Linked DNA regions of Homo sapiens. The protein of the gene in region 1 interacts with the protein of each later gene in a pairwise test. Each region holds a gene or a part of one and is shown on either strand. Other genes may lie near its edges.

Region 1 (8,153 bases):
CTGGGAGCAGGAAGAAGCTGTGGTAAAGAGAAGACATTCTCAGGCTAGGGCACACCATTAACAGAGGCATGGAGGTCTGAATCAAGAGCAATAAAATCACTGCAGTTCTCTTCACAGCTGCCCTGGGGTTCAGCTCCCTGGAGATTCTGATTCATTGGTTTGGGATAAGGCAAGCAGAACTTTGATATTCACTGTTGAGAACCACTGACCTGCAGCATCAGAATATAGTTTGAAGCCAAATGCAGAAGTCTTGGTAACAGCTAGAGAAGGAGATTTCTTTTTTCGAGATAGAGTCTTGCTCTGTTGCCCAGGCTGGAGTGCAGTGGCATGATCTTGGCTCAGTGCAACCTCCGCCTCCTGGGTTTAAGCTGGGATTACAGCTCCCAAGTAGCTGGGATTACAGGCACCCGCCACCATGCCTGGCTAATTTTTTGTATTTTTAGTAGAGACAAGGTTTCACCGTGTTGACCAGGCTGGTCTTGAATTCCCGACCTCAAGTGATCCACCCGCTTCAGCCTCCCAAAGTGCTGGAATTACAGGCATGAACCACCATGACCGGCCAGGATTTTTTTTTTTTTAAGTAAGTAGGCAGTACTCATAATTACCCTTCAGAAAAGTTAACTCAGTAATACTAGAACATTGACTATATTTTTAAAAATGAACTGAATCCCCTATTTGAAGACAAGGATCCACTTTTTTTTTTTTTTTTTTTTTTTTTGAAACAGTCTTGCTCTGTCGCGCAGGCTGGAGTGCAGTGGCATGATCTCAGCTCACTATAAACTCCACCTCCCAGATTCAAGCGATTCTCCTGCCTCAGCCTCCTGAGTAGCTGGGATTTATCAGCACAAACCACCACGCCCACCTAGTTTTTGTATTTTTAGTAGAGATGGGGTTTCACCATGTTGGTCAGGCTGGTCTCGAACTCCTGACCTCGTGATCCATCCACCTCAGCCTCCCAAAGTGGTGGGATTACAGGCGTGAGCCACCACGTCCAGCCCACTTTTATATTTTATAGCCTTTCTCTTAAATGTAATCACTTTCATAAGAAATAAAATTAGGATTTTATTCTCCAATGTTTTTTTAAAGAAAACAACTTCTTTCTTTTCCCAGATGAGTAAAGTTCTTGTGATTCCAGTAAATATCACATTAAAAAACCACTTAGTTCCCAAAGACTTGTCCTTTATCCCAGACCTCCATTTTGTAAATGTGAATAAAAACTCCACAATTGGAAATGGAAATATGTCAAATAGAAAGCATCACTAATTCATAGTCAAATCACAAAATAAACTTTTAGTATTAGATGCTGAGGGCACAGAAAAGTCCTGCGATAATAGCACAACTAAAGGAAGGCTTGGCTGAATATCTCTGTCATGGAAACAAAAAAGACAGATGGAAGAGCATACTTAACAGCTTCTTGTTTTTACGTAATTCAGAAAAGCAGTAAGTGGAGTTCACATTGCTTGGCCTCTAATAGCTGATAGTATGTTCAGAGTAATTGTCAATAGGTGATTCCTATCCACATTTCCCCAGACAGCTCCTCTGTTTTCCCTTTTCACTTTGCCAGTATGGAACCTACCCTGTGCAAGGTATTGTGGTAGATGTTGGGAACTCAAAGGTGTAAAGAAAGCTAGCCACATTTGTGCAGTGATAAAACAAGTAATTCCCCAGACCGGCTGGTGACTTCTGCACTGACTCTTGACGAGCAGGGCTTCACATGCCACATGTAGGTGAGGATCGCTTTTAGATGTTCTCAAAATATGGACCCCAATCCAAACCTGTCTAACAGTAAGGAGAGTCTGGACATACAGATGTTAAAACACAGTGGAGATGATCCTGGACTCCTACATGAAGACTACACAGAACATTATATTGGACTGGGGATTGTTTCTTCCTTAAATACCAGGTTCTTTTAGGGAACATTGGCAGGGCTTTCATTCCTTGTATTGAATATTCTCAAGTCGTGATATTCCCAGTGGTTTTGTTTGCTGTTATGGCTGAGACACACACACACACACACACACACACAACACTCTCACTCTCTCTCTCTCTCACTCACTCATGCCCACACTCTCCCTGTCTTCTTCTTGTTGATTTTTTTTTTTTTTTTTTTTTTTTTTTTTTGCTAGGAGGTTCAGTTCATTGGCTACTTAATATCTATCTCCAGTTTGGTCAATTGTTGATACATCTTTTGACATTTCTGGTTTTCTTGCATTTGATATTTACTCCTTTGCTCGATTTTCTCCACTTTATTCTTGTTCTTTCTCATGTCTTTTGCTTTCCTGAATCTCAGTTGAATTCCTGACAGGGTTTGACTTAAAAAAATCATTATTGTGGTGAGACCTCTCAATATAAGATCTATCCTCTTATTTTTAAGAATACAATACAGTACTGTTAACTGTAGTATAATGTTGTGCAGCAACTCTCTGTAGTTTATTCGTTTTGCTTAACTGAAACTTGATGGCTGTTGAGCAGCAGTTCACCGCCATTCTACTCTGTGTCTATGAGATTGGCTATTTAAACTCCTCATATAAGTGGAACCAGGCAGGATTTGTCCTTCTGTGACTGGCTTATTTCACTTAGCATAATATTCTCGAGGTTAATATATGTTGTTGCATATGGCAGGATTTTCTCCTTTTAGACTGAATATTCCTTTATATGTCTATATATATCACATTTTCTTTATCTGCTCATCCGTTGATGGACAGTGAGGTTGTTTCCACATTTTTTTTTTTTTTTTTTGAGATGGAATCTGGCTCTGTCGCCCAGGCTGGAGTGCAGTGGCACGATCTCAGCTCACTGCAAGCTCCGCCTCCCGAGTTCATGCCATTCTCCTGCCTCAGACTCCCGAATAGCTAGGACTACAGGCACCCGCCACCATGCCCAGCTAATTTTTTTGTATTTTTTTTAGTAGAGACGGGGTTTCACCATGTTAGCCAAGATGGTCTCGATCTCCTGACCTTGTGACCTGCCTGCCTCAGCCTCCCAAAGTGCTGGGATTACAGGCGTGAGCCACCGCTCCAGGCCTCCACATTTTTGCTATTGTGAATAACACTGTAGTGAATATGGGAGTGCTAATATCTCTTTGAGATCCTGATTTCAATTATTTTGTATAAATACCCAGAAGTGGGATTGCTAGATCATGTGGTACTTCTAGTTTTAATCTTTTGAGGCATTTTCATACTGATTTCCATAGTGGATGCACCATTTTACATTCCTACCAACAGTGTATAAGGATTTTTTCTCCGTATCCTCACCACCACTTGTTACCTTTTTTTTTCTTTTATACAACCTACAAATTGGGAGAAAATTTTTGCAACCTACTCATCTGACAAAGGGCTAATATCCAGAATCTACAATGAACTCAAACAAATTTACAAGAAAAAAACAACCCCATCAAAAAGTGGGCGAAGGACATGAACAGACACTTCTCAAAAGAAGACATTTATGCAGCCAAAAAACACATGAAAAAATGCTCACCATCACTGGCCATCAGAGAAATGCAAATCAAAACCACAGTGAGATACCATCTTACACCAGTTAGAATGGCAATCATTAAAAAGTCAGGAAACAACAGGTGCTGGAGAGGATGTGGAGAAAGAGGAACACTTTTACACTGTTGGTGGGACTGTAAACTATTTCAACCATTGTGAAAGTCAGTGTGGTGATTCCTCAGGGATCTAGAACTAGAAATACCATTTGACCCAGCCATCCCATTACTGGGTATATACCCAAAGGACTACAAATCATGCTGCTATAAAGACACATGCACAGGTATGTTTATTGTGGCACTATTCACAATAGCAAAGACTTGGAACCAACCCAAATGTCCAACAACGATAGACTGGATTAAGAAAATGTGGCACATATACACCATGGAATACTATGCAGCCATAAGAAATGATGAGTTCATGTCCTTTGTAGAGACATGGATGAAATTGGAAATCATCATTCTCAGTAAACTATCGCAAGGACAAAAAACGAAACACCACATGTTCTGACTCATAGGTGGGAATTGAACAATGAGAACACATGGACACAGGAAGGGGAATAACATCACACTCTAGGGACTGTTGTGGGGTGGGGGGAGGGGAGAGGCATAACATTAGGAGATATACCTAATGCTAAATAACGAGTTAATGGGTGCAGCACACCAGCATGGCACATGTATACATATGTAACTAACCTGCACATTGTGCACATGTACCCTAAAACTTAAAGTATAATAATAATAATAATAAAAATGAATAAGAAAAAAAATAATAATGGCCAACTTAACAGTTATGAGGTGATATCTCACTGTGGTTTTGATTTGCATTTCCCTGATGGTTAGTGGTGATAATCGTCTTTTCATATATCTATTAGCACATTTGTGTATCTTTTTTAGAGAAATGTGTATTCAAGTTCTCTGTGCATTTTTTCATTGGACTATTTGAGTGTGTTTGTTTGCTTTGAGTCATAGGAGTTACTTATGTATTTCGCATATTCACCCCATACCAGGTATATGGTTTGCAAATATCTCCTCCCATTCTATAGGTTGCCTTTTCAGTCTGTTGACTGAAAGTTTCCTTAGCGCAGACACTTTTTAGTTGAATGTAGTCCCACGTATTTGTTTTTGCTTTTTTTTTTTGTTGCCTATGTCATATCCAAGAAATCATTGCTAAGATCAATGTCAGGGAGCTTTTCCCCTATTTTCCTTCTAAGAGTTTTATAGTTTAAGGTCTTATAGTTAAGTCTTTAATCCATTTTGAGTTGACTTTTGTATATAGTGTAAGAGATAAGGTCCAGTGTCACTCCTCTGCATGTGAATATCCAGTTTTCCCAACACCATCTGTTGAAGAGACTGTTCTCTTTCCCCGTTGTGTATTCTTGGTGCCCTTTTTGAAGATCAGTTGACCATATACGTGTGAGTTTATTTCTGGGCTCTCTGTTCTATCCTAGGAATTAACATTTATTTCCCTTGTTATCCACACCATTTAGTGAGCCCATCATTCTTTTCATCTGTTTGTATTTTTGTGGGTGATAGAGAACTACTGCGATTTAAAACCTCCTAGATAGTTGAAGACACCAGATAGTTGAGCTTAAAATGATACTTAATTTGTTGTTATATTTTAGGTCTATCATATGCAAGTCACACGGTTGGTTTCACGCCACCAACTTCACTGACTAGAGCTGGAATGTCTTATTACAATTCCCCGGGTCTTCACGTGCAGCACATGGGAACATCCCATGGTATCACAGTAAGTGTCCGTGGGGTAGGAAGCAGCACTTTACTCCTGAAAGTGGTACCGACTGGTGTTCTGGAGAACAGGATCGGTGCCCTTAGACATTTGCCCTTCTTCCTGCCTCCTCCATCCGTTCACCTTGAAACTGTAGAGACTTAAACAGTTTGATACCAAATTCTGGTATTGAAACTAAAATCCTTCCCAGGAGACAAAACTTTAACTTCACTTCCTATGAAAAATTACCCTTTGTGAAATATAATTTGAACTCTGGCCAGTGCTTTGATTGAACTCTGGCCAGCTCCTTGCATTATTGTTGGTTGCCATAATGTCTAAAGATATTTATTGTCTGCACCTTCACAGTTCACTGACCTTCAGTATTCTTCCTGAAGTTAGCCTTGTTTGTAATGTTACTCAGAATTTTCTCTCCTCGAATTACAAGGAAGCTTAAGTGCATCTGGTTCCAACTCTACCCAAGGGAGTTTTTTCTTTAGAGTCGGCAATATAGTTGACTAATAGAGCCATTAGAAATGTAGCTAGTAGAGTGAGAGTATTATTAAGGGTATTTCCAATAACAGAAATACCAATATTTCAAAGAATAAATTATAATATTTTAAAGAAGAACCCTATTCTAAGAATGCACTTAAGGTATTTCTGAAGCTGTTTGGCCAGTTTGATGGACTTTATGTAAAAGTAGGAACTTTTTTTTTTTTTTTCCTCACTCTGTCATCCAGGCTGGAGTTCAGCAGCATGATGTCTGCTCACTGCAACATCCGCCTCCGGAGCTCAAGGGATTCTCTTGCCTCAGCCTCCCGAGTAGCTGGTATTACAGGCACACGGCACCACACCTGGCTGCTTTTTGTATTTTTAATAGAGACGGGGTTTTGCCCTGTTGGCCAGGCTGGTCTCGAACTCCTGGCCTCAGGTTATCCACCCACCTCTACCTCCTAAAGTGCTAGGATTACAGGTGTGAGCCACTGCACCCGGCCTCAAACATAGAAACATTTCTGTTGAGCTGTATCTTTCAGGATGTGGACAACTTATTGGAGATAAGCAATAGAGGGAATTGGTGACACACACGGAAAGAAAGATTTAAGGGGATATTTTACAGCTCTCGTTGAAGGACCCAAGTCCAGCAGTTTGTTCAACACAAGTTGTGCAGTAATTTTATGTAGCTTTTTCATAGGTGGAAGTGTAAACACTGCCTTATTTAAATTTTATTACTAGTTCAGAAACCAGTAGGGATGAAGAAAGAAATCCCTGGTTTCTTGTCTTTGTTGGTTAGTGTTTGATTAGCCCCAGTGCCAAGTCAGGCTGTGTTAGGTAGAATGAGATCCACCTGTACCTAGACTGACTTGCTGTTCCTGTCCCCTCTGCAGAGGCCTTCACCACGGAGAAGCAACAGTCCTGACAAATTCAAACGGCCCACGCCGCCTCCATCTCCCAACACACAGACCCCAGTCCAGCCACCTCCGCCTCCACCTCCGCCACCCATGCAGCCCACGGTCCCCTCAGCAGCCACCTCGCAGCCTACTCCTTCGCAACATTCGGCGCACCCCTCCTCCCAGCCTTAATGCATGAGCTTAGTCTGAATTTCAAGTTGGGACTCATCCAATGGAGCCGTCTACTCAACGCCAAAGGCTTCCTTCTCTGGCATATTTGGATATGACTTATTTGCACTGAGGTTATCTAGGCTTCACTATCCATTGTGTTGTAAATGTTTGTCAGAAATGCAGCCAGTGTTGTGGGTCTACAACACTAACCAGACGACTTTTTCCATCAGTGTTTTACTTGAATCTTCATGTACGTCCATTCCCTGGCTGGAACCTTCGCTGTTTGGTATTTGGTATTTCAGCAGCAGTGTGCAATTTTTGCTTGGCCCAGAGCTTCATTCTCCTGGCTTTTAGGTTTGTAAAAGAAAAAGGGATATCTTTTTTATATTTTTTTCCATGAATCTGCAGAAAATTACTGAGCTGTTGTTACCCTCCTCTCATTATAATAGTGTTTACCAAACATACCAATAATTCAGCACTACAATTCAGACCTTTGAAAATCTGGCTTTCAGTGTAGAACAGAAAGTTAGATGAATCAGTGCCCAAGACATATTTTCTGTTTAACAGAACTTTCTACAGATACATTTTTTACAGGTTATTTTCATTGTGTTATTGACATCCATGTCTCTCGTAAAACAGATGGCCCAAAGTAATGAATCATGTGGCTGTACCTTCTCCACATAAATGGGATGGATAATTATCGTATATTAAGATGTGATTCTCTTTTTTATCCTTAATGTTAATCTACTTAACCTGGCCCCCTCTAACATGAGTCGATAAATGTTGTCCTACTCACCGGTGGTTTCAATGGCTAATTAGAATGTGTTATTTGATTTCTGCTGCAGAAGGCAGTGTGATTGTAACAAAAACAATGCGGCTTCCCCCTTTCGTACTTCATTTGTGTTCTCTTAAAATAGAGTTTGAACAAATATTTTAAAGGTGCAAAATACCATTAGAAAATACTATTTGAAATGGACATTATCGCATTATCTTGGCATAATGGCCAGAAAATATTGTATTGCTTGGCAGAAAAGAAAATAAGGTCTAAAGGAAAGTAGCACATTAGCATTGATGGCTGTTCATTTCACCCAGTATAAGCAAGTGCAGTGTACAAAGAAGTATATTCTGAATACATTATTTCCATTCATTTAGCACAAATAAATCATTTGGTTTCACTTTGCAGTGGAACACTGAGTCACTCTTTTCTTAACACGTGCAACATCTTAATTTTTGTTTTTCAGCAGTTGCTGTTTTGTACTTTGGTAGTAAAGTGATTTTTACCACCTGTGTTTGCATATTTATATATGCTGTGGATGAAAATAACTTACTAGAGAATGTATATTTTATGACAAGAATGTGTATCTGTTGGATATAATCAGAG
Region 2 (7,000 bases), on another chromosome or scaffold:
CAAACATTTAAAAATGCCAACTTTGCTGGTAATCAGAGGAGAGGCATGTTAAGTTAAAACAACATTGAAATACCATTTCCTTCCTCAAGATTGGCACACATTTTGACATGACAATTTCTGTTGGCCAGAGTATGGGAAAACAGGTGTCCTCATAAACTGCTCTTGGGAGTGAAAATTGGTATCACAACTTTGGAGGATAATTTGACAGTAGGTGTCAAAAAAGATTTTATTATTTTTTTATTTTTTTTTGAGATGGAGTCTCACTCTGTTGCCCAGGCTGGAGTGCAGTGGTGCAATCTTGGCTCACTGCAACCTCCATCTCCCGGGTTCAAGTGATTCTCCTGCCTCAGCCTCCCGAGTAGCTGGGATTACAGGGATGCGCCACCATGCCCGGCTAATTTTGTATTTTTAGTAGAGACGGGGTTTCACCATGTTGGCCAGGCTGGTCACGAACTCCTGACCTCAAGTGATCTGCCCACCTCGGCCTCCCAAAGTGCTGGGATTACAGGTGTGAGCCACCACACCCGCCAGATGTCAAAAATTTTCATGGGCACAGCCCGTGATCCAGAAGTTCCGCTTCTCAATGTATACCCAAGATAAATGCTTGCATGAGGAGACATTTGCAGGAGTGTTTATTGCAGCCTTATTTGTAGTATTGGATGCCCCCCAAATGTTTGTCAGTGAGAAGGCACTGCCCCTGGGTCATGTGCACACCATGAGATGGAGCATTTGAGCCTCGGCTCGCTGGGACACATGGATTAGTGAAAAGGGCAGATTGCAGAACAGGATGGGCTAGTCTATTTCCATTCTTATGTTTAAAAAGAAAACTCAATCAACACCAGCCTGGGCAATGTGGCGAGACCCTGTCTCTACAAAAAATACAAAAAAATTAGCCAGGCATAGTGGCACGTGCCTGTGGTCCCAGCTACGAGGGAGGCTAAGGTGGGAGGATGGCTTAAGCCCAGGAGGTTGGAGTTTGCAGTGAGCTAAGATTACACCACTGCACCCCATCCTGAGTAACAGAACTAGACCCTATCTCAAAAAAGAAAGAAAAAGAAAACTCAAAACAAAAAAAGGAAACAGACAGGTAGTTGCCAGTGGCTGGAGTGGGAAGAGGATTTGATGATGAAGTGGCATGAGCGAATTTTCGAGGGTGATGGAATTGTTTTCTTTTTTCTTTTTGAGACAGAGTCTCACTCTGTCACACTAGGCTGGAGTGCAGTGGCATGATCTCAGCTCACTGCAACCTCTGCCTCTCAGGTTCAAGCAATTCTCCTGCCTTAGCCTCCCGAGTAGCTGGGATTACAGGCACCTGCCACCACGCCTGGCTAAGTTTTGCATTTTGTTAGTAGAGACGGGGTTTCACCATGCTGGCCAGTCTGGTCTCGAACTCCTGAACTCAAGTGATCCACTTGTCTCAGCCTCCCAAAGTGCTGGGATTACAGGCATGAGCCACCGCGCCCAGCCAGAATTGTTTTCTATCTTAATTGTGTTTAGAGGTTACAGAACTCTATGCATATATAAAGATTCATAGAATTGTTCACTAACATTGGGTGAATTAGAGTAAATAGATTATACTTGATTAAAAAAATGTTTATATATGCACACAAATACAAATATATTTCTTTCCCAAAGGCACAAATTATATATGTACAGATGCATGCCTTGGGCCTGATAATGACAGTTACACCTGACAGGAGGTGTGGGGTGGGAGGGGAACCAGGGTTAGGCTGGAGTGGTCAGTAGATGCTTTAGTTTTTTATACCATGTTTCAAACTTTTACAAGGAGAATATATTGAGATGTTATCTGTATAATTGAAGATTAATTTTAAAATTATATTCCTACCATTAGTATAGGCAAAATCCTATTTATAGGTTGCTGCTTTTATAATTCAGAGACTGATCCTGTTCTCAAAACAGGATAACTAAATAGAAGGACCATTCAAAAAATACCTGTGTGCCAGGCGCAGTGGCTCACGCCTATAATCCCAGCACTTTGGGAGGCCGAGTCGGGTGGATGCTTGAGCTCAGGAGTTTGAGACCATCCTGGGTAACATAGCAAGACCTTGTCTCTACCAAAAATACAAAAAATTAGCCAGGCATGGTGGTGCGTGCCTGCAGTCTCAGCAACTTAGGAGGCTGAGGTGGGAGGATCACTAGAGCCCAGGAGGTCGCGGCTGCAGTGAGCTGAGATTGTGCCACTGCACTCCAGCGTGGGCAAGAGTGAGACTCCATCACAAAGAAAAAACTTGTGTGGGCCGGGCGCAGTGGCTCATGCCTATAATCCCAGCACTTTGGGAGGCCGAGGCAAATGGATCACCTGAGGTCAGGAGTTCGAGACCAGCTTGGCCAATATGGTGAAACCCTGTCTCTATTAAAAATACAGAAAATCAGCCGGGTGTGGTGGTGGGTGCCTGTAATCCCAGCTACTCAGGAGGCTGAGGCAGGAGAATTGCTTGAACCCAGGAGGTGGAGGTTGCAGTGAGCCAAGATTGTGCCATTATTGCACTCCAGCCTGGGCAACAAGAGCAAAACTCCGTCTCAAAAAAAAAAAAAAAAAAGAAGAACCTAACTCTTGTGTATATGTGTATTGCTGTTTAATTACATCAATAATAAATTAATTAATTAAACACCAATAATTACATTACATTATTGATGTTTAATACCTGCTCCTTGTTATAAATTTAAACAATACAGACAATTACAAACCAAGTGAATGTCAACCCTTCCACCCTGCACTCCCGTTGCCTGGAGGTAGTCATCATTAACTGATTAATGACTGTCCTTCTTGACCTTTGACTCAATACCTTCACACATATGCTCAGAGTTGAGTTTTCTTGATGATGTTTTTGCAAAAGTAGAATCATGCTACACACAGGTGAGGGATCTCACACATTCGCCCCATTGGCGGTTGTGTAATAGTCCACTGTATGGATGCACCATGACTTACGGACAGATGTTGATAGATGTATGAGTTATTTCCAGTGTTTTTGCTCTTTTGAATAATTCTGCAGGAAGTTGTACCCACACCTTTGTGCACTGTGAGTATTTTGGTGGACTGGAACCGGGTGCTGTAGGTGTGTTACGCAGACATCCATGGGCATCAGATATCCCATTTCCTGCTCTGCTCTTCAGACCACCATCCCTGCTCAGGGCTGCATCCCAGAACTGTCTTGAAGAGCCCCTCCTACAGTGCCATGCACACAGTGACAGCCCAGGGGTTCTCATCAGGTGTCCACTGGAACCACCTGGTGCCCTTGATCAATACGGATCCCCTCATCCCCCGACCCCACCATTCTGAGGCAGTGGTCTGGGGTGGGCCAGAGTTTGTATAACATCAGGCCACCCGGGGGTTCCTGGTGCCCATGCCAGGGAGAACCACTGCTGCCACCCTCTCTTGACCACTGTCTTTTTTTCCTCCCAGAACAGGTTCTCAGACTATGAGAAGAGGAAGGTAAGAAAATGCCTTTACCCTTCTGTCACTCTTTTCTCATTAAAGATCTCAACTCAACTCATAAAATATTTGAGAAAATGACTTCTTCCCAGCTCAGAATTAGAGGTCACAGTAATGCCTTCCTCTTACACGCAGTCTGCTGCATCCTCACATGCCTCAGGTGGGTGGTAGAGCATCCATGGGACAGGTGCAGAGACTGAGGCTCAGAGGGGTTGAGCCCAGCACCGGGCTCTAGACCACTAGCCTCTTCCTGTGAACAGCTTGTTTTCTTACAGTTGGGCCCTGGAGGGGAGTGGGGGTTGCTCAGCATGAAGACCTGGAGCCTGCCCTGTCAGTGTTGAGGGGTGGATTCTCCCGACTTCTGTGTCCTAACTCCCCCAGGGCCTGTGCTGACAGTCACCAGGATCTGTGTCTTGCAGGAACAGAAGATGCTGGAGAAACTCGAGTTTGAACGGCGCCTGGAACTGGGGCAGCGGGAGCACACCCAGCTCCTTCAGCAGAGCAGCAGCCAGAAGGATGAGATCCTTCAGACGGTCAAGGAGGTTTGTGAGCCGCCTGCTAGGGTCCAGCCTGGCTGCATCCCCCAGCCAGTGGCCTCCTGGCTTGGGCCAAGGTCCCTCGGATGTGGAAAGGCAGTGGGATGAAGCTGTCACTTCCTTCTGTCCCCCAGCACCTGGGAGGGCCCTTACAGATCACCCAGCCCAGCCTCCCCGTGTGCAGATGGACACTGTAGCCTACTGGGAGGAGCTGGCCGGAGGTCACACAAAAAGGATTGGCAAGGCAGGGTGGGAAAGCCAGCCTCCTAACCCCAGTCAGTACCCCTCACGGCGTCTGAGGGGGTCCCAGGGGCTCAGGACCCCTACCTCCGGCTGCAGGAGCAGTCCCGGCTGGAGCAGGGCCTGAGTGAGCACCAGCGCCACCTCAACGCAGAGCGGCAGCGGCTGCAGGAGCAGCTGAAGCAGACGGAACAGAACATTTCCAGCCGGATCCAGAAGCTGCTGCAGGACAATCAGAGGTTGGGCTCTGCTCCTCGGCCCCAGCCCCAGAGTCCTTCCCCGTGCAGTCCCCTGAGGAGCCGGGAGGAGTGTGTTTCTCCCTCACTGCCTCTGCCCCTGCCCCGGGCTTCCCTTGTCAGGATCCAGTCTGGGTGCTTCAACTGGCACCAGCGTAGAGAGAAAAGAATCTGACCCAGTCATTACAAAGTCTGGTTTCTTAGCATGAGACTGCTACCAGATTGGACCTGTGGCCTCGGGCAAATGTTTCCCCACTGGGCCCCAAGCTTCCCATCTATAAAGTGAGTGGGTTTGACAAGATAGTTGGGATCACATCCTGCTCCAGTATTTTGGGTTCTGCGTAACCCGTTGCACTGAGGTCAGCTGTTCACCTGTAGTGAGATTTGCCTTAACAAACCCTGTGCAAGGTACGAGCTAGTAAGAGCAGATCTTGATGGGGCTGGGGAGACATGGCGCCAGAAAAGCCTGAGAAGTCTAGTGAGGGGGCCCATTGCAGGATGATTCCAGAAACAGGCTCCAGCCATATGCCCTGCCACTTCCAGGCCTCTTTTTTCTAACCCTGAATCACTCGTTCCTCCCTCACCTGTCAGTTTCAAAAGTACCTGCATGAGTTCAGGAAACCAGTCATTTGTTGGATGCTTCTTATGTGCCAAGCTTGTTACATCTATTTCTTCATTAAGTCTTTACAAATGCACCAAGAAGCTGGGTTGTTTTCATTTTGTTTTGTTTGAGACAGAGTCTCGCTGTGTCACTGAGGCTGGAGTGCAGTGGTGTGCTCTCGGCTCACTGCAACCTCCTTCTCCCAGGTTCAAGCAATTCTCTTGCCTCAGCCTCCCAAGGAGCTGGGACTACAGGCTTGGGCCACCACGCCTGGCTAATTTTTGTAGAGATAAGGTTTCTCCATGTTGACCAGGCTGGTCTCGAACTCCTGACCTCAAGTGATCTATCCACTTCAGCCTCCCAAAGTGCTGGGATTACAGATGTGAGCCACTGTGTCTGGCTGGGTTTTTTTATTCTTCTAATTTCATAGGTGAGGAAACCTGGGACTTGAGTGGTTTCAGTAACTGGCTAAGAACCCAGAGCTTCAAGGTGGTGGAGCCAAGGTGCCCCCAGCCCATTTCCTAAGCCCCTCTGCACAGCTAACGCAGTGAGACAGGAAACAGGCCTGCTGGTGACTGCCAGGACCTTTTATGATTTTCTCCACAGACAAAAGAAAAGCTCCGAGATTTTGAAATCGCTGGAAAATGAAAGGTAAGTGTTCTTCCAGGGGAGGGCAGCATTTTTTTTTTTTTTTTGAGACGGAGTCCTGCACTGTCGCCAGGCTGGAGTGCAGTGGCACAATCTCGGCTCAGTGCAACCCCCGCCGCCCAGGTCCAAGCAATTCCCCTGCCTCAGCCTCCCGAGTAGCTGGGACTATAGGCGCATACCACCACCAGCTAATTTTTTGTATTTTAGTAGAGACGGGGTTTCACCGTGTTAACCAGGATGGTTTCGATCTCCTGACCTCATGATCTGCCCGCCTCGGCCTCACAAAGTACTGGGATTGCAGGCGTGAGCCACTGCTCCCGGCCAAGGAGAGCAGCTTTGAGGGGAGAATGTCTTGTGATTCTCCAGAGGATTATGCCAGGACATTTCCCTAAAGCTATAAGGAGATTCACCTCCTTAGACGATATTTAATTACAAAGAATCATTGTCTTCAAGTTCATTAAAACATACGTACACTCCTGAAAAACATTCAGAGACATGAATAAGGCTAGATATATAATGTCCAACTATATTCCTAGTATAAAAAGTTCAGGCCAGGCGCAGTGGCTCACATCTGTAATCCCAGCACTTTGGGAGGCCGAGGTGGGCAGATCACTTGAGGTCAGGAGTTTGAGACCATCCTGGCCAACATGGCAAAACGCTGTCTCTACTAAAAATCAAAACTTAGCCAGGAGTGGTGGCAGGCGCCTATGGTTCCAGCTAAAAAAAAAAAGAAATTCAGAAAAAAAATCTAAATTTCTGGAAAGAAAAATTATTTAGTTACATAAATTATGTATGGAGGAATAACCTGCAGCCATTAAATGTCTTATTGAATAATATTTCTCATTAAGGGAAAACATAACATATTGCTAATGGAAAAAGTGACAGGCTATATTTATAGCAGAATTTTTAGTATATCTTTTTTTTTTTTTTTTTTTTGAGACGGAGTCTCACTCTGTCACCCAGGCTGGAGTGCAGTGGCACGATCTCGGCTCACTGCAACCTCCACCTCCCAGGTTCAGGCGATTCTCCTGCCTCAGCATCCCGAGTAGCTGGGATTATAGGCGCATACCACCAGGTCCGGCTGATTTTTGTATTTTTAGTAGAGATGGAGTTTCACCATGTTGGCCAGGCTGGTCTCAAACTCCTGACCTCAAGTCATCCGCCTGCCTCAGGCTCCCAAAGTGCTGGGATTACAGGTGTGAGCCACCGCACCCGGCCATGTGACTATTTGTGAAGGAAATATTTAAAGGACATTTTGCTAGGTGCCAACTTACCTTCCCAAAAA

What was found. The genes of interacting proteins can lie anywhere in the genome.
Region 2: the proteins of CCDC6 (region 1) and LRSAM1 interact in binary tests that used the Homo sapiens proteins (3 or more experiments, as listed by UniProt).

What each region holds. Positions count from the first base shown.
Region 1 is NC_000010.11:59,791,557-59,799,709, reverse strand, and holds part of CCDC6 (coiled-coil domain-containing protein 6), read left to right. Parts: intron 1-5,112; coding exon 5,113-5,237; intron 5,238-6,598; coding exon 6,599-6,793; 3' UTR 6,794-8,153.
Region 2 is NC_000009.12:127,475,510-127,482,509, forward strand, and holds part of LRSAM1 (E3 ubiquitin-protein ligase LRSAM1), read left to right. Parts: intron 1-3,424; coding exon 3,425-3,454; intron 3,455-3,873; coding exon 3,874-3,996; intron 3,997-4,329; coding exon 4,330-4,469; intron 4,470-5,673; coding exon 5,674-5,718; intron 5,719-7,000.